3 linked regions of the Homo sapiens genome follow. The protein of the gene in region 2 purifies or fractionates together with the protein of the main gene of each other region. This does not show direct contact. Each region holds a gene or a part of one and is shown on either strand. Other genes may lie near its edges.

Region 1 (5,691 bases), on a different chromosome or scaffold from region 2:
GGACCGACTTTGTTAAAGCACTGAACTAGCTTCCTTGGAGCCCCAAAGGGAGGGGCGGGACCTTCACTTCAGAAATAAGAAGACAGACTCAGAGAGGGTTTGTGGCTTTCCCAAAGATACCTCATTCCAGGATTTGAACCCCAGTCTCTCACTCGAGACCCCAGGTACTTGCTGTGGCCCATACCTTCCCCAAATTATCCACCAACAGCCAGTCAACCTGGGGCAGGGCTGTGGGGGAGAAACATTTGTTTACTAAATCACAGAGTCCCTCTGCCCGCTGGAGGGGAGAGGAGAATGCCACCAAGTGGGCGGGGGTGGGGCATTGCATCCCAGCATTTGAATGGGCAGGGAGGAAATGGGGCACAGGACTTCTAGAACTTGCAGTTTTGCTCATTCGGGCTGTCTAGGGAGGTGGTGACAGGGAGAGACTAAACTGAAATGTGCCTGTGACTTCCATCTCAGGAAGATGGAACATGTTCAACCCCAAGCCATGTTCGGGGTCTGTGGCAAGCAGGAATTCTCCTTTATTTTCCAATAGGGTTAACAATCTTTCCCAGGAAGAGCACGGAAGGTATTTTCTCGCTGTAAATCAGCAGCAGATAGGGTTTGTCTATCTTGACGACGAGTGGTGTCTCCATGGGCAGAGTCTGTGCTCCGGTGCCAGCGGCCCCTTCCGTACCCCTCTCATCCATCTTCAGCTCAGCCTTGTGCACAGCCTACGGAAGCCAAGGGCAAAGTCAAGGTCTGCCAAGCTCCTTGGCGACCACAGTGGGCCGGAGGCCCAGAGAGGATCAGAGAGGAAGACCACTTGGCCCAAGCCATCCAGCACAGCAGTAACTTGGTTTACTCCAGGGTTCCTGGCTCTTTCGCCATTAATGCTGGAGAATATTCGACAAGCAGATGCCGTGTGAAGGAAAAGATGGTGCAGGGGGAGCATCAGTTACGGGAGTCGGTGGGGGGAGAGATGGAGTGGGGTTTGCTTCTCTTTCTCATGGGTTACAGGGAAGCATCAACCATAGCCGTGGCAGAAAGGTCTACTGGGCTGTAGCTGGGTGAAAGTGAGGTGGTGGTACCCCCACCCTGAAGCCTCCAGCACCTCCTTTCATCCACCTGGTGGATGGTTAAGAGGGAGAAGGATTCTGGATTAGCTCTTTGAGATGACTTGCATCCCAAATCCACTCCAAAGGCATCAACGTCTGTAAACAGGTGATCAGTACTGGGAAACTAACGGGCATGTGTGAAATCCTGGCACATTTCTTGCTAGCCTACAAAATTCTCACAATTTTACTTGCAGAAAACAGGACAGTATCCTGTGTTACAATCACAGCTATCAGCAAACGTAACTACAGAAAGAAATGAGCCATTAAACTCAACAAGACCTTCAGAGCTGGTGTTAAATGTTTGTGGGAAGTCTGTGGCAGGAAAGCTCAAAAGTGAGAAAATTCTAGTAACTATGTTTCTTATGTCAACGTGAAAAATACAGTGGAATCTGTGCCATCTGATTCAGAGCAGCGGGCTCAGCTTGGCAAGCTGGATCCTTCCCAGACTGGCTTGAACCTCCCACTTTATCTCCACTAAGCACCCAATCCCCACCACCCACTACTCCATGATATCCAAAAACCCCCAGCCTTGGCCACACTGCTGCACCCATCCCCGCACCCATCTCTGCTTGTTGAAATCTTTCCCCTCCTTCAATGCCTTTTTAACCCCAAAGTAGGGTTGCCAGGTGAAATACAGGACATCCACTGAAATTTGAATTCAAGATAAACAATGAATATGTTTTAGTGTAAGTGTGTCCCGTGAAATATTCTGAACATACTGGCACTAAAAATATTATTCATCATTTATCTAAAATTCAAATTTAATTGGGTATCCTGTATGAAATCTGCTAAATCCGGTGACTCTACCTATATGGTGCTCTCTTCTTGCCCCAGACAGTCAGGTGCTCACCTTTGCCAGGGGCCACAGGCCCCTTTGCTTGGTCATCTCTTCCTATGCAGCATATGCTTATGCCAACTCATATGAAACATGTGGCCTTGGGCGCGGTGGCTCACGCCTGTAATCCCAGCACTTTGGGAGGCCAAGGTGGGTGGATGACCTGAGGTCAGGAGTTTGAGACCAGCCTGGCCAACATGGTGAAACCCTGTCTCTACTAAAAATACAAAAAAATTAGCCGGGCATGGTGGCGGGCGCCTGTAATCCCAGCTACTCGGGAGGCTGAGGCAGGAGAATTGCTTGAACCTGGGAGGTGGAGGTTGCAGTGAGCTGAGATCGCACCACTGTACTCCAGCCTGGGTGACAGTGCAAGACTCCTTCAAAAAACAAAATAAAAGAAAGAAAGGAAGGAAGGAAGGAAGAGAGAGAGAGAGAGAGAAAGAAAGAAAGAAAGAAAAAAAGAGAGAGAGAGACAGAGAAAGAAAAAGAAAGAAAGAGAGAAAGAGAGAGAGAAAGAGGAAAGAAAGAGAGAGAGAAAGAGAGAAAGAAAGAGAAAGAAAGAAAGAAAAGAAAGAAAGAAAGACGGATGTGGCCTTTGAGAGAGGGTCTGGGTTAGACCTAGACCAGTTCTAGGCCTGATAACTGTTCCAGGCCTTGATCAACGTTTGCTACATTGAATTGATTTCCAAAATAGCAGCAGTTTTAAAGACTGGAAGCATGAGGCTGGGGGAGGTTATGTGGTTTGCCCAGGATCACGGGGTTGGTAAGGGGCACAGCTGCATTCATGCCCGCCCCGACTGGTGGGTGGAGTCTCGGCTCTGACAGCCACTGTGACCCTGGCTCTGGCCCCGGCTGGGGGAAGGCCCCTGTGCTGCAGGGAGTGGAGTCCAGGCTAGGCAGGCTTACCTCGCCCACTTTCAGGCTGCGATGAGGGGCGATCTTGGTGAGATCACCATGTTCCTCAAAGATTTTGGAGACACCTATGTAGGAGAGAGTCTTCTTCAGGTCGAAGGTGCCCGTCATGTGGAGTCTGGGTACAGACACGTCTACGACCCTGGGGAATTGACACGACAAGGGTGAGTGGTCAAGTCCTGTTGTGTTGCAGGGCAAGCCTCAGGATACATGACCAATGAAACATGTGTCCTCCCAGCCCCAAAGGTCTCCAATCTCTCTCCATCCACAGAATGAGGAGGGGCTCCTTAACCCTGGGACCCTGGTTTCAAAACACCATAAGCTCTCTGAACCGTGTCCCTGCCTCCCAGCACACCTGCCCCAGAGCCCTCTACAGGGAGTGTTCTCAAGTCTCAAGTTCCCCCGTCTCAGAGCCCCTTCAGCCACAGTCACTGATGATGTCCACACTGTAGTCGCTGCCATGCCTGAGCCCTGAGCCCATCCTGACCCCAGAAGACCTGACACTGGAGGGAACAAGGCACCCAGAATCTGGAGGTAGACAGAACTGAGTTCAAATCCACTCTGCCTCTCATGAGCTCTGTGACCTTCCCTCTCTAAGTCACTTGTGTGAGAAGGAAAATGATCACCGTCGCTCCTGCGGGACACTAGGGGTGCTAAGGCAAATGCAGACAAGGCACTCAGCAGACAGTTGGTGCGTAGCAGGTGCCCATCCTCCTGCCCTCCAACTAGCAGCTTCACATCCTCTGTGGCTGAACCGCGATCAGCCTCCTGCCCGGAGCCTGGGGCCCAGGCTCTCCTGAGGTACCTGCAGACCCTGGATTCCCGTTCACCTGGCCTTGCACCCTATTTTCCCACCTACCCAAGGATCTCATTCCTGCCTATGTGTCCTCTCTCTCCTGCATCATCCTTAAACAGTGCCCCTTTGATCCTCCTCTGGAGGAGGCCTCATGCTAGAGTGACCCTATCCTCAAAAACTAACACCAAGAGATCTCTCTTGGCCCTGAATAGCCTCTCCAGCTTCCAGCTCATTTCTTTTCTTCCTTTTATAGCAGCTATCTCCACTCCCTCCCACAATTGCCTCAGTCCACTCCAGTCGGCTCTTTGACCTCAACTTTTTATGGAAGCAACTCTTTCCAGAGTCACCGTTGACAACCAGCCCCACGTCCCAGAGCCAGCTCTCAGTGAGCCGCACGTGATGGTAATCCCTTTCTCCAAGGTGAAGCATTCCAGGTCCACCCCTTGAGGCTTCTCCTCCTTCCCCACCACTCCTGCCCCTGTCGGGCTCCACCCCTCCCATCTCTACCGGTGACACTGCTGCTTCCAGGCTCAGACCTTGGTCCCCTTCTCTTTTCCACCTTCACTCCATCCCCATACATGTCATTCAGTCTCACAGCTTTGAATATCATCAACAGGCCCAACGACTCCCAAATTTACCTTTCCACTCATTCATTCACTCAACAAACATTTATTAAATCTCTACTGTATACCAGGTGCTGTTCTAGGTGCTGGAGATGCATCTATGAACAGAGCAGGCAAAGATCCCTGCCCCTGACTGTGTGTTCTAGCAGGGAAGACAGGTGATAGAATCAACACAACAAAAAGTACCACTTAAGCCTACATACATGTACTAGCGGTATGCAGAAGGCAGTAAGTGCTATGGAAAAAAATAAATAGATTGACTTGCAGGAATCGAGGATTGGTCCAAAGTTTGAGCAAACCTTGAGGCAGGCAAGAGAGTTAGACAAATTGGGGTTTTTTTTCCTGAATAAAATGGGGAGTCACTGTCGGGTTTTGAACAGAGGAGTGACATAGTCTTGCTTAGGATTTAAAAGGATCATTCTGTTGCCTCTGTTAAGAATATACTCTTGGTGGTGGTGGTGTGTGTAGTGGGGATGGGCAAAAATTGATGCTGGGAGACCATTTGGAAGCTAGTGTGGTAGTCACATGTTGGGAGCCACAGAGACGGCGGAAAGATACCAAATTCCAGATGTGGTTTGCTGTAGGCTAAAGGAGTTTCCTGACAGACTGAATGAGGCATTTGAGGGTGGTCAGGGTGACTCCAAGGTTTTTGGCTTGAGCAACTAAAAAGATGGAGTCACCACTGATTGAGATGGGCAGGCTTGGGGAGGTTCTCTGGGGACAGATCAGGAAGTCATTCTGGATGTGTTGACACTAAGCTCCAATTACACATCCTGGGGACATTCTGGGTAAACAGAAAGATCCACGACTCTGGAATTTGGGGGAGAACAGGGGCTGGGGATGGAAGCATGGCAGTCGTGGTAATAGAGATGGTGTTTAAAGCTCTTAGCCTGTGAGCTCACTCAGGGGTAAGTATAGACAGAAAAGAAGGCTGGGAACTGAGCCCTGAGACACTCACCTCTGAGACCTGGAGGAGGAGAGGGGTCTCCAGCAAAGGAGATTGAGGAGGGGAGAGGTGGGAGGTGATGTGAGAGTGGAGAGCTGGAAGCCAAATGAAGAGTGCCTTAAGGAGGTGGGGACAGAAACCAGCCGAAGAGCGAGGCCTGAGACTGACTGCACTCTGCAACACAGACACCCTTGGGACCCTGGGAAGGGAGCTTTCTGTGAGAAGTGGGTGCAGAAGCTGGACTGGAGTGGATTTAGGAGAGGATGAGAGGAACTAGGGGCTGTGAACAGAGGCAACTGCTTCATGGTATTCACCTGCAAAGGGGGAGTGACGAAATGGAGGAATAACTGGGGGAAAGCAGAGGTCAAGAGAAGCTTTTATGTTGGGAAAAATAATAGCATTGAGATTTCCTGCAGGCCAGCACAAGCCATACAGGCCTGCCTGCACAGAAGGCAGACACCTGCTTTGTCTTCTTGCAT
Region 2 (7,118 bases):
GGAGATAATCTTATGAAAAGATGAAAATCATTTGTTTGAAAGTGTATTTTCTTTACTAGAAAAAATTTTTTTTCCCAATGATTAGCATAAAAATGTAAAATTACTGCATTTTATTTTTAGACCAGGAAGCTAAAAATTGCTCTGGCCTTATCTGATCTTGTCATTTATACGAAAGCTGAGAAATTCAAAAGCTTTCAACATTCAAGATTATATCAGCAATTTAATGAAAATAATTCTATTGGGGAGACACAAGCCCGAAAACTTTCAAAATTGCGAGGTAAATTTTTGTGACTCAAATAGATGAAATGTTTAAATGAGTTAGATTCACTGCTAGGGTGTTAAGATTGCTCAATGATATTTATAAAATGTATATTCTCATAAAATTTCAACACATTTAACATAATTTAGAATGGGGTTACATACCTCAGGTCTCATTAAGTTTTATTTCATGGAACTTAGCCATTAATTAACTTTCCTAAGCCATGACATTTTGATTGAGAATGTCCGATGTGGCCACATTTGTTGAGGGCTGGGGGGCTGTGGTGAGCAGCTTGTATAGGAGAGCAGTGACAGGGCTGCAGAGGGAGGCAGAGCCGAATTAGAAGGCTTGAACTTTGTCCTGGAAGCGAAGGTGCGCAGGAGAAGATTGAACTCTCAGGAGTGGCATGATCCACTCTATTTCTAAACGATACCTCTGATAGCAGCCAAAGGGTGAGATTGCAGGCAGGAAGGCGGTAATAAAGATTTCTGGCAGTGAGAGTGGAGACAGGATGAACTTTGTGGATTTAATAGGCATTGAAGAGGGTAGGGTTAATCAGACTTGGAGGCTCTATGCCTATGGTGAAGGAAGGGGAAGAAATGGCGCCCAGGCTGGACTACCAGATGGCTGTGCAGAGTGTGCATGCCCCACTGCACACCTGTAGAGGTGCCATCTGTCTCTGCATCTTCCTTTCACTGCCTCTAATTCTAAAACTGAGGTGGTTATTCTGTTTGGCAGTGCCCAAGGTAAAACGGGGCCTGAGAAAGAGAATAGAAAGAAGACTCATTATGTGGGGAATGTCCCAAACTTAAAAGGGAATGAGCAACTAACTTAAGAGCCAGGTGACTCTGCTAATCCTCAAAAAATGGCAGTTTTTTTTAGTAGCAGGGGTATGGGGGAAGTAAGGACAATAATGGATACAAAACTATAGTTAGAATGAATAAGACATAGTATTTGATAGTGCAACAGGTGACTACAGTCAACAATAGTTTATTGTACATTTAAAAATAACTAAAAGAGTATAATTGGATTGTTTGTTACACAAAGGATAAATGCTTGGGGTGATGGATACACCACTTATCCTGATGTGTTACTAGACATTGTATATCTTTGTCAAAATATCTCGTGTACTCCATAAATATATTTATCTATGTACCCACAAAAATTAAAAGTTAAAAAAATGCAATCTACCATCTTGTGTAGAAATACCACAGAAGGAAAATCAGCACCTGCAATTGACTTGAGAAAAGCTGCTGGCTGTTTGGGAATGCGGATTCTGAAAGCTTTAATGATTAACCTTATTGGGCTGGTCATAGATACCCAAAGATTTTGAAGTATACTTTAGTTCATATTCTCTAACTATCTATTAGAGAGATCCTGGATTTTTTAAAGGCTCTTTTCCTTTTTTAACCTGTGTGTTGTAACCAAAAATCAATTCAGTAGGTCTGGACTACAGTTAAATAATAGAATAGAATAGAGTAGTATAGAGTAGAATGGAATGGGATGGAATGGAATGGAATGGAGTAGAATAGAATAGAATAGAATAGAATAGAATAGAATAGAATAGAAGAAAAGTGTATTGCAAGCAGTAATAATAAATATGGTTTTATGAAGCAATTGTGCATCGTGCATGTGAGTTGGATTGTAAAATGTATTTCTTGCTGTAAGGTGTGGTTAAGAGAGTTTGAATGACATGCTTTACTGGTCTCTGTTCCTTCATGTTGTTCATGAGGACAGGTCCTCATGTTGTTCATGAGGACAGGACCTGTAGGCACAGCATAAATTAATTATAATTGTATTACTCTCATCATATTAAATACTTGCAAAAATTTTGGAAAGGAATTAGATAGTTCTGAGTAGAGTCAAAGTATAACATTACCATTTCTTTGAAGGGGCATAGAGCATTTTTCTTGCACCAAAAGTTATAGTAAATAATCAATGATGTCTGCAAAGGTTTAACTTCAAGGATGCCAATTATTATTATAAACATAATGAAAATCATTAAAAAATAATGTTGTAGATGAATATTATTGAAATGAAATGATGTTCACATTATTATAGTAAATAAAGATAACGGTTTGTGAAAGGGAACAAACATTATCATTCAACTAAAAATTATACACATACAAAAGAATGGGAAGATATATGTGAAGGAGTTATCAGTGGTTATCAGTTGAATGATGACATATGGTTTGATTTGTTCTTTGATGTCCTCCTATTTTACAGTAAACATGAACTGTATTTGTAATAACAAACATGTTTATTTTCTAAAGGTTAATCTCAGAAATAACAAAATCATATTATGTTATGAGACCTTAGTCATCATTCACATTTATTACTTTGTAAATGAGAAACATTAAGACTCAGAAGAGTATGTGTTTTGCCTAAGGACAGACATCTGTTAGGACTAGATAAGGGAGCATGATACTTGGACACCTATGCTGTATTTATACACACATGGTTTCAAAATAAACTTTCTCTCAAGGAATGTGTAACTTTTGAAAATAAATATTGATAAAATTAACTGTAATTTTTAATTTGACAATGCTTCCTAAATAATAGTATTTAGGATGAAGGGAGAGGTGATTCTATTCTAGTTGGTTTAGCAAATGAAGTGAGCCATAAGCAGTAACCATTCTCCCATGATGAGTCACTATATCAGCAGGAATGGTTGCAGAAACAGGATCTGTTTAATGAAAAAAGAAAATCCTTGGAGAAGCATGAAATTTGTGTTCAAAAATTTGAAGAAGGTGCCAAATGGTAAAGGGTTTAAGTTAGTTTGAATCTCAAGTGACTTAAATATTATATAGACAAGAAGAAACACAAAGAATATGTACAGAAACTAAAATAGACTGTGTGTGTATGTTTGTTCCTGTTTGTGTGTATACTACAAATACGTAGAGATTATCCCAGTAAGAACGACATTTGAAATAATTAAAAGCATTGAAAGTTTTTCAATGGAGACATGTAAACACAGATTGAATAAACTTTGGGGGAAGATGCTGGAGTGAAGGGATTGGAAGTCGAACTGGACAACTTTGGGGTGCCTTTCAACCCTGAGAACCTGTGAAATGTTCAGTAGGATTAATTTAGCTGGAATCGTATAGCTTTGTGTGACTTCCATATGATTCTGCCCTACTGTGAAAATCAAAGTGGAAAAATAATAAGGGAAAATGCTGCTTTTGTTTTGAAAAATGAATGGATTATATTTTGGAGTTTTATGTATTCTTACAACAAAGTGAAATAATTTGGGTGTAAAAAATATATAAATTATCTAATCAATTTTTTCCTTGAATGATCAGTGTACATACATTTTATGATAAAATTGTCACTAACATCTAAATAATAGTGAATTATACTATAAACATAAAGGCATGGATTTATTTTGATATTCATGAATTGCAAATTTTTGCCAAGACAATACATATCAAAATTGTTGAAACTATTATAGAATTATATGATATATATATATATATATATATATATATAGTGGCTTTTTAAATTTATTTGAATTCTTTCACAATGTTTTAATTATTCTTTTTCAGTCCATGAGTTTATTTTTCACACCAGGAAGTTCATTACCAGAATATATCCCAAAGCAACAAGAGCAGACTCTTCTAATTTTAATCCCCAAGAATTTTGGAATATAGGTTGTCAAATGGGTATGTTATATACGATATTGAGTTGTTTGCAGAAGTAACATAAAATGAATTCATTTTATGAATGTATGAAAAACTCGTGAAAAGGGCTTTCTGTAAAAGATTTTTTAGCCCGGGGGCTTTGGGGTCAGGCACTAATGGTGGGTCATGTGTTGTAAGAGTTGAAGTCATTCCTATCTGGGTTGAAGCGGGGTAAATCTCAGTGATGGTTTGGGGAATGGTGGTTAAATTCACGAGGAGTTAATATGAGACATGTGTAGTGGAGGAAGGGAACAAGGAAACCCAAATGGACATTGAAGATCAAATTCCTTTGCTTGAGGTATGCTCAAGGCCTCTTCAAATCAAGTGACCTCTATCATTTATACTTTACATGAGCTTCTACATTCATAGTTTTGAAAAGTGAATAAGATTGCCTAACTTGGTTATTTGCCCTCACCAGACTCTTATTCCAAATTGAACAGCTAGTACAGCACTGCACTAACCCATCAGAAAGTACCAGGTGTTACCCTTCTACTGGATTGTGGCAAGGCCTGTAGGTGTGAGGAGGGGGGATATTGGGGCTGGGTGGAGGGTGGAGTGTGGTACTCTCTACAGTGGCTATTTACCAGGCTATACTGAGGTACTTCCATATTGTAACGACAATTATTGCTTTGCCTGTTTCTCACTTTCTCCTCAAGTGACAACAGCATCTCATGGACTTGAAAATTTATGACATAGTTGATGTCTTTACCTCTTGCATTCAATGCACTGATACTCTTTATTCTGACATTTCTTAAGTGTTACCTGACATGAACATTGTTATTCTGTAATCTGTACTGGATACCATTTTGATTTCTTTACTCAAAGCTGTGTAGTAATTTACTTACAGATTAAACTTTGCAACTCATCAATATACATTAATATAGACATGGCAGGAGAAAGAGTTTTAAAAATCATGAATTATTAGGCTAATGATACTTGCTCATAGAACATTTGGGGACATAGAATCCATTATTAGATTTCAGTAAGTGGTTTGTGTTCCTTTATTTGTATTCTCTATTACCTGACAATGTCAAAATACTTCTTTCTTACAGTGGCTTTAAATTTCCAGACCCCTGGTCTGCCCATGGATCTGCAAAATGGGAAATTTTTGGATAATGGTGGTTCTGGATATATTTTGAAACCACATTTCTTAAGAGAGAGTAAATCATACTTTAACCCAAGTAACATAAAAGAGGGTATGCCAATTACACTTACAATAAGGGTAAGATTAATAAATTTTCTTTTACATTTTTTGGTTATTATATAAACTAGATAGTGTACATTAGTATTTTGAATTCCACTGATTTGCTTCAATTTCTTTTAAATTTCTGTTAATCTTTTCAGGTACTATATGTGGGTAGTATTCCAGCATCCTTCTATATCTGAAAAATGTCTTCCTGTTGTAATTTTACATGAATGATTATCTGCCTGTGAATTGACATATTGAGGCTAAAACCTTCTCCTCTCAAAGTTCTACTATATGATTTCATTGTATTTAGGCATTTAATATTGTGAGATACAGGTCTCAGTTCAGCCCACTAATTACTTTGTGGGCATGTTACTTTTTCTCGCCTTTGATGAATTTTACCTGGAAATTTTAGGAGCCCTTTTCTTTTCCTCAGTCTCCACAATTAGGCTTTTGTAGGTCAGGATTCTTCCCCCCATATGTCTGTGAATATCATTTGATTACTTAAAAAGAAAAATTATCCATATGTCTTTCTCCAGTATCTGTCTTCAGTGTCTGTTAATTTGTGTCAACTTTAACATATTCCCTTTTCCTCTGCATGTTGGGAGAGCTTTTTTGTTTGTTTGTTTGTGAAAGAGCGCGCTTTATTGGGAAGCAGACTGCTGCACAGTGACCAACAGACAGGCCACCCAGTGGGCACTTACACATCGTACTCCAAAAGACACAGGATGTTTTGCTAATAAAAATCAATGGGAACAGAGATTCCTCTGGGCAACTCCCCCAGCCTCATCCCTTTCAGGGACTGAGAAATCACCCAACCATTTTCCTGATGGCAGCCGTAGTTCACTAGAGATACAGCCCCTCAGGGGTGTCTTCCTGTTTCTTATAAAGAACATTTTCTTTAGATTTTTTGAAGTCTTCATTTGTTACTTTCATTCTACGTTCTCTTAAGGCCATCAGACCAGCTTCTGTACAGACTGCCTTGATGTCAGCACCAGAGAGGTCATCTTTAGCCATGATCAAGTCGTGCAGGGTTACATCATCAGCCAGCGTCATCCTGCTTGTGTGAATCTGAAAGATGGGCTTCTTCGTCTTTTCATCAGGCAGGGGGAACTCAATCTTCCTGCCAATGCGGCCTGGTCTGATAAGCGCTGGATCCAAAGTTTCTATTTGGTTTGTGGCCATGATAGCTTTCACATCTACCCTAGAATCAAATCCATCCAACTGGTTCAGCAGTTCCAACGTTGTTCGCTGAATTTCTCTCTCACCACCAGAATTGGAGTCATATCTTTTTGTCCCAATGGCGTCAATTTCATCAATAAACACAATGGACGGTGCACGTTCTTCAGCAACTCGAAACAATTCCCGTCCGAGTTTGGGCCCATCACCTAGGTACTTCTGAATAAGTTCAGAGCCAACCACTCTCAAGAAAGTGGCTGAGGTTTGGTTTGCTACTGCTTTGGCTAACAAGGTTTTACCTGTGCCAGGTGGACCACAGAGAATGACCCCCTTGGAGGCTTTATACCCATCTCTTCATAATATTCAGGATGGGTGAGAGGAAGCTCCACAGATTCCTTAATTTCCCGAATTTGGTTGTCCAACCCCCCAGTATCTGCATAGGTCTCTTGGGGGGCCTTTTCCACCTTCATCACTGTGACCAGGGGATCCATGTCATCCATCAGCACCCCTATCATGGTATGCACCTTGTGGTTGAGCCTGACCGAGCAGCCAGGTTCCAGAAGATCCTTGTCTGCAAATGAAAGAATGCTGATGTAGTGTTCTGAGCCCACAGATGTAGACACGATGGCATGATTGTCATCAATGATCTCTTCCAAGATTCCTACTGACATTGGGGTCCCCCTCAGATCATCCACTTTTGATCTTTTCCCTTCTTGCTTTTCTTCTAATGGTTTCATTTGTTCCTGATTTCTAATGAATTCTTCCTCCATGAGAAGATAGTCTTTAATTCTCTCTAACTTCAGTAATTTTAACT
Region 3 (7,140 bases), on a different chromosome or scaffold from region 2:
TTTAGTTCCTGGGGTCTTATTAGTACCAGGGTCATGAAAGCCTTTAGTGTTGGCCTCAGGTGGTAGACATGTGACTGGTAGACTAACAGCACCCTATTTTTAGTGTTGGTTTCTATCAATATATCTTGAAATGTGGCTTTGATTACTATTCTCCCTAGTGCTTCAAAAATATCCCTTTATTTTCTTTCAAAACCACTTACATTAGAAATGCCCTCAACCCCTTGAGCCACTAGGAATCCAGAGAAAACAGGAGTCAAAAGCAGATGAAGCAGAAAATGATCTCTTTATTGGAAGTTTGAAGGCGCTTCAGGTTAGGAAAGCCTAATTCAAGGAAGCATGGGCAGGTGGTGTCATCCATGGACCAAGAATCTGAAACTACACGGGAGTCTGCATCTCAGAAACATCACAGAATTCACTGAGGTCAACTGACACCTAGAGAGAAAGAAGAGAATCAGTGATGTGAGTATAGTAAAAAGTGAAGGGTGGGGATGGTAGCTGGGCCCCCTGTCCCCTTCAGCTCCAACTGTACCAGCCCTCTACTACTAGGATACCAGGCCACTAGTTGCCAGCTGGGGCCACTGTTTCTACTGCTTGCCCTCTCTTCAAGTGCAGTGTTACTTACTGCAAAGAGGCAGGGAAGCACCATTACCCCTCTCAGGGCTTCAGTTTTCTTCTCCTGATGTTGTAAACACCCAATTGGCCCATGAGATCCCTCACCATCTCTTGTGTCTCCCTTTCCATCTTCTCTTTCACAACATGAACAAGGATCTTTCTACATATCTCTTTCCTGTATTCTGAGAGGGAGGACTGATAGTCTTTGGGCTTGTGGTCTCTGAAGGAGCATAGATGAACCCTAACAGGGATGCAAGAACATTCACTGGTGTGCAGAAAGAAAACATTAATGGCTGTAATCCTTTATACTATATAGGAAAGAAACTGAGGTTTACTAATCTAAAGTATAAGAACTGACAAGAGTATACCATAAACTTATAAATATGCATATGTAGTCAGTACCTGTTCAAAAAAACCTTTAGCAGGTAGGCATATACAAAAAAATATTATTGAAGAATATTCAATTAAGGATAGGAATTCTAGGACCTCATGATAGGCCAAACATCCTTCTGTGCCACTACCAGACCCTCTCCTCACCAGGGAATGGGGAGGCTCATCTTCCTACCACTTGTTATACAGCACTTCTATTGGTGCGAACAATGGTTATCAATCCCACAAAAGTCCTGGAGAGTCCCCAACAATTCTAAACAATGAGAGAGATATCTCCCCTATTTGCTAAAAAAAAATTACCTTGATATTGGTCCATCCTTTCACATGGTTACCGAATGGTAGGTTTATGTAAATAATGGGTTTCGGTCGTTGTTAAGATGTTGTGCCAAATGACGATCACTGTCATCTTCCTGCTCTATAATTACAATATCCAATCCCCCATGAGATCCATGTTGGTGTCTGCCTTTTTGTTCATGACTGAGTAGGTCTTGTTCTCTATTTGTAGATTGGCCAGACTCTCCTTTTGCATTTTCACCATGCCATGGCTCTTGCTTAGGATTTGGTGCCTGGATTTGAGACTTGCCTGCTACTAGCTTTTCAGTTTGGCTATAAATACTGCGTTGGGATACATCTTTCTGCACACCATTTTCTCCATAGTGGAGTCGTCTTTCTTCCGTACTTGAAGATTGGTATGATATTTTATTTGCCTTTTGGCTATGCTCTTGCTCTTGACTGGGAATTGTTATCTGTTTTTGAGACTTGCCCTGTGCTTTCTCTTCAGTTTGGCTATAAATACTGCTTTGGGATACATCTTTCTGCACACCATTTTCTCCATAGTGGAGTCGTCTTTCTTCTGTACTTGAAGATTGGTATGATATTTTATTTGCCTTTCGGCCATGCTGTTGATCTTGATTGAGATTTTTTGTCTGGTGTTGATTCTTGTTATATACTAGGAGCTCATCTTGGGTAGAAAAAATGTCTTTGGATCCATGTTGGAGTTTGTCTTGGTGCGCAGGACAGAGTGAGGTTTGTACTTTACTTGAATGTTCCTCTCTCACTTCAACCACATTTTGGTAATGCCCTTTATTTTGATGAGAATTTTTAGTCTCACGTTGTTGTTTGTTAGCTACTAGCTCTTCAGTTTGGAGAACATAACTGCTTTGGGATCCGCCTTGTTTTCTACCTTTTTGTGCACCAGAGACGGAAGTTTGTTCTTTACTTAGTCCATGAACCCACAGCCTTTCTTCTGTGTTTGAATATTGACTGGATATTCCCTTTCCAGATGGGCTATTCCCCTGATCTTGAGAAGGATTTTGTGTCCCACGATGAGCTTTGCCTCCTTTATGGTGTATAACTACCCTGTGAAAATGACCTTTTGATTTATCATGGTCTCTGCCTTCTTGTTTATTATGGAGCAGTTGTTGACTTCCACCTAGATGTCGTTGTGATTTTGTCGTCTTATGTAGGGCATTCAAATCATATTGCTGACTTTTTCGGGACTGGTCATGATCATTGGCATCTACATGATATGTGTATTGAATAGAAAAACTGCCTTTGGATTCAGTTTGTTGCTTGCCTTTTTGTCCAGAATAGTGCTGGCCCTTTTGTCCGTGTGGAAATTGGGAAAATTCACTTGGTAATCGGCCTTTTGATCCACCTGGTAATTGATAATAAGAAGGTATGCATTCATTATCTCCAAAGCTCCCTTACAACTCTTACCCCCCACTTTTCCCCCAACAAATTATTGATATTTCTAGAAAAGCTGAAGCTTTGGGTGGAGAAAATCAATTCTCTTCAAAGAGAAGAATCTGTGCCTAAACAGGTTACTGTTTGCACCCCAAATAATCTTAGATTATTAGCTGTCTGAGCAGCTTTCCCCAAGGCTTACCCTCTCCACTCACCTTTTTGTCCCATCACAGCTGCTTGCTTCTCCAAGATGAGGAGCAGGGAAAGTACAAAGATGATGTTGGGCTTCATCTTGCTTGGAAAACCTTGTCTGAGAGCTGAGCCGACCTTGTCATTTATATCTTCCTTGAGTGAGTGTGCCATGGGTGGAGCTTAAATTACAAAAGGCACTGACTTTTCTTAGCTTATCAGTAAATGCCAACTTCCTCACCCCTGCTGAGTGTGGGACAAAGTCAATGTCCCCAGCAACATAATGTCAAAGGCATTTTCTTTCTTCTGGCAGCCCCAGCAAATTTTTATCAGTCCTTTTAGATCATCATGCCAGATCACTTTAATTTTACAGAATTATAGACAAAAGTAGGAAAGAGACTGGCTTCAGGCTACAAAAGCAATTGGTTTCTGAGAATGCCTTTATATTCTAAATGTGAGTTTCCCTTCATGATGCAATAATTTAAATACTCTATTTTAGATAGAACTCCATACTTCCTTTTGTTTTAAAAATGATCTTGAGACACGTTCTATTTTACCTAAGAATGAGCAATCATAGAAGTCCAATGATATAGAAGATAATGAAACGTTATGGAATCCAAAGAAAGAAATTTTAAACAAGTAAATGGGGCACTCCAATGTCAAATATGTCTGTCAAGTTCAACACAATAAAGACTGACATGTATCCAAAGTTTTTCTTAGTTGTTGCTAGTAACTTTAATGAGAGATGAATACAATTGCATTGGGTTGTCAGTTGAAGGATGGAGACCAGCTGCAACCTTCTCAGGAAGTCTGAATTCATGGTGGAGTGAGAGCTGAGGCTGTATCTGGAGGGTGAGGTAAGTTCCAGATGTGTTTTCAAAGGATGAAAGAATTTTAATATGCTTTCATGGTGATAGGAACAACTGTTGGAAAAAAAGTAAAAATGCTGGTTTCTAGATTGGGTTCTTTTCATGAAATCTACCTAAACAGCAGAATTTTCTTTTTAATTAAGAGAAGTTTCTACTTCAGTAGTAAACAGCTGAATCCCCAAACAGGCTGTGAGAAATATTTGCCACCATCAATGAATTGAATAATGTATTGTGAGTGGACATGAAGCTAAAATTCCCACCTTTGGTAGAAGCATAGATTTTTCCAATTGTGATGACATCCTGAAAAGTCTGAAGAAACTTTCTTTACTTTGAGTCATAAAGACTTCGTTATGAGCAGACCACAGGAGAAGAAGAAAGCATCCCAACAGTGTCCCTGTGTACATTCAGAACACCTTGGAGGGTAGTGCTGGGGAAAGGATAGCTTGAAAACTTATTTTCAATTATTCTGTCTTAGAATCTTAACCTTCCTGTAGGCAATGCTCTATGGAAGGGGAAAAGAGAAAGGCCAACCACAGAAAAAAAGTGCTATGCTATCAAACATAAATCATGTGAGCTGCATGGTTTCTCTATGAGCCACTCTGAGATCTTACCAAATTTATCTGTTTGCCTCAAAGGCAGTAAGTAGTTCCTTATTGCAGAAACCCCAACAGAGTAAGGTGATATTGTTCTGAACTAAAATTGATTACTGTGTCTGCTAACCACTGTAATCTTCCTCACACTTCCCTTAAGAAAATACCAGAAACTGTTCTGTTCCAAACTTACTGATACAAAATAGAGTCTGAAATATTAATCTTACTTATGGATCAAGAACAAAACTTTCATCTCATCTAGTGTCCAAAAGATGCAGATAAAACAAAAGGGCACAATATTTGCAAAAACAAACCAGGAAAATGCAATCCAAGCAAAACATGTGATTACTATATTCATATTAGAATTGAATTCAATGAAATGTGGAAAAAAACATTTCCAAATGATAAAGGAATGTATTGATAAAGTTGAAATCAGAAATCAGTGATTTGGAAAGCATAAAAATGGTATGGTGATGCATACATCTTAGATATGGAATTATGATGGGGGAAAAGATTAAGTGATCAAATGATTTGTCCTGTTGGACAAATAAAAAATGCAAAAATATTAAAGTGCACTAAATTGGCACAAAAATCTGAAAGTTTTATACTCATAGGAAAAGAAGAAAACAGGAGGACTTAAATGTATTTTGCTCAATTCTATGGGAAATCACTTTACAACTTAGAAAAGATTCAAATATAGTTATTTTTGGGGAATGGGCAGAAAAACCTGGTAGAGTAGGACTCCCCAGAGATTATACCCTCCAAAACGTCGAATTTAATAATTATCCACATATGATAATAGTTTCTCAAAAGCTAAACAGGCCAGATGAGATATTACAGAACCTGATTATAGTATAATAATTAAAAATACACATTGAAGAGGGCACGAAAGACAATTTTGTTTCCTGTATCACCCCTAACCCAATCACAGGCAGCACAGTGCAGAGAGAGCTACTTTCTTTTGGGGGGAAGGGAATGAAGTAAGGCTTGGACTTTTTCACGGAACAAAATACTAGTCTATAATAGTAAAATTCAGCACTGGGAGGACACCCATAGTGACCCTGCTTGAATACCTGTGGCCTAAGCAGCAAGACCTGCCCCAGCAGCAGAGAGGAACACATAGTTCCTGTGAGATAGACTTGCGTTCTTACCTGTACCACTGGCAGCCAACTACAGCAGCCTTGGATTATGAATAACCAACATACGTAGGCAGGTATCAGTGAGGAGGAGTTGGGAATGCATTCCATCATTGTGCCAGCCTCTGCAGCCATGGGTTACAGCCTGGTGCAGAACTGGCCATGGTGGTCCTGGGTTTATGACATCTCCTTGTGCTGCAATGACTGAAACAGTCACAGGCTTACAAACCTAGAACAGATGATCTGCCTAGAATTTCCGGACAGAGTTGAGGGACATTCTCAGACAAAGCCAAACTGGAGTAAGTACCTACCTTAAATTCAATATCTGCATTCAAGTACCTACCTGCAATTCAATAAGTACCTACTTCTTCAATGTGCAGACATCAATGCACAATCACAAGGATCAAGAACAATCGGGGAAAACTGATGACACCAAATTAACAAAATAAGGTACCAAATGAACAAAATAAGATACCATTGATTGGCCCCAAAGACATGGAGATGTATGACCTGCCTGAAAGAGAATTTAAAATGGCTGTTCTAAGGAAGCTCAAAGAACTTTAATAAAATACAGATAAATAATTAAATGAAATGATGAAAACAATAAGTGACCAGAAAGAGAGATGTAACAAAGGGTAAAAATGATAACATTTAATATCTAATGTTAATATAGGAGCTGAAGAATGCAATGAATAAAATGAAAAGTGTGAAAAGTGCAATAGAGTGCATTAACACCAGAAATGATCAAGCAGAAGGAATAATCTGTGAGCTTGAATACAGGTTATTTGACAATATATACTCAGAAAAGGAAAAAAGAAAAAAGAATAGAATGAAGGAAACTTATGAGATGTATGGAATAGCATTAAGTGAGCAAAGGGACAATTTACTGGCATTCAAGAGAAGTTAGAGAAAGATAAATGGAAAAGTAAAGAAAGCTTATTAAATAAGTAATAACAGAAAACTTTCCAAATCTGAGGAGTTCATATATATATATATATATATATATATATATATATATATACACACACACACACACACACATATATACACCCATATATATACATATACATATATACATATATATTATATATATATGTATGTGTCTATTATATATATATATATGTAGTCAAAGTGCAGGATGGTCAACAGTCACCAATCACATTCAATTCAAAAAAGACTAGACATATAATAATTAAACTGTGAAAGATCAAAGACAAATAAATGATACTGAAGCAGCAAAAGAAAAGAAGCAAATAAAATGCAAAACAGTTCCAATACACTTCACATCAGACCTTTTTTTTCTTTTTCAACTGTTATTTTACATTCAGGGGCCAAGTGTGCAAATTTGTTACCTGGGTATATTGCATGATGCTGAAGCTCGGGGTATGAATTTTCCTGTCATTCTGATACTGACTATAATACCCAACATTTAGTTTTTCAACCCTTGTCCCCTTCCCTCCCTCCTTCTCTCCTCTAGTAGTCTTCAGTGTGTATTATTTCCATCTTTATGTTCATGAGTATCTGACATTTAGCTCCCCTCTATAACTGAGAACATGTGGTATATAGTTTTCTCTTCCTGCATTAATCTACTTAGGATAATGGCCTCCCACTGCATCCATGTTGCTGCAAATGCATGATTTTATTTATTTTTTATGACTGTGTAGTATT

What was found. Proteins that work in one complex are often made in the same cells at the same time.
Region 1: the proteins of PLCZ1 (region 2) and SERPINA12 purify together in Homo sapiens (affinity purification with mass spectrometry; 3 studies listed by BioGRID and IntAct, with this or other methods). This does not show direct contact.
Region 3: the proteins of PLCZ1 (region 2) and SEMG1 purify together in Homo sapiens (affinity purification with mass spectrometry; 3 studies listed by BioGRID and IntAct, with this or other methods). This does not show direct contact.

What each region holds. Positions count from the first base shown.
Region 1 is NC_000014.9:94,486,779-94,492,469, forward strand, and holds the end of SERPINA12 (serpin A12 precursor), read right to left. Parts: intron 2,990-5,691; coding exon 2,842-2,989; intron 717-2,841; coding exon 525-716; 3' UTR 501-524; downstream 1-500. UniProt on the Homo sapiens protein: Adipokine that modulates insulin action by specifically inhibiting its target protease KLK7 in white adipose tissues.
Region 2 is NC_000012.12:18,692,953-18,700,070, reverse strand, and holds part of PLCZ1 (1-phosphatidylinositol 4,5-bisphosphate phosphodiesterase zeta-1), read left to right. Parts: intron 1-120; coding exon 121-277; intron 278-3,804; coding exon 3,805-3,921; intron 3,922-4,991; coding exon 4,992-5,161; intron 5,162-7,118. UniProt on the Homo sapiens protein: The production of the second messenger molecules diacylglycerol (DAG) and inositol 1,4,5-trisphosphate (IP3) is mediated by activated phosphatidylinositol-specific phospholipase C enzymes. In vitro, hydrolyzes PtdIns(4,5)P2 in a Ca(2+)-dependent manner.
Region 3 is NC_000020.11:45,202,893-45,210,032, reverse strand, and holds SEMG1 (semenogelin-1 preproprotein), read right to left. Parts: upstream 3,001-7,140; 5' UTR 2,980-3,000; coding exon 2,904-2,979; intron 2,660-2,903; coding exon 1,347-2,659; 3' UTR 1,303-1,346; intron 433-1,302; 3' UTR 265-432; downstream 1-264. UniProt on the Homo sapiens protein: Predominant protein in semen. It participates in the formation of a gel matrix entrapping the accessory gland secretions and ejaculated spermatozoa.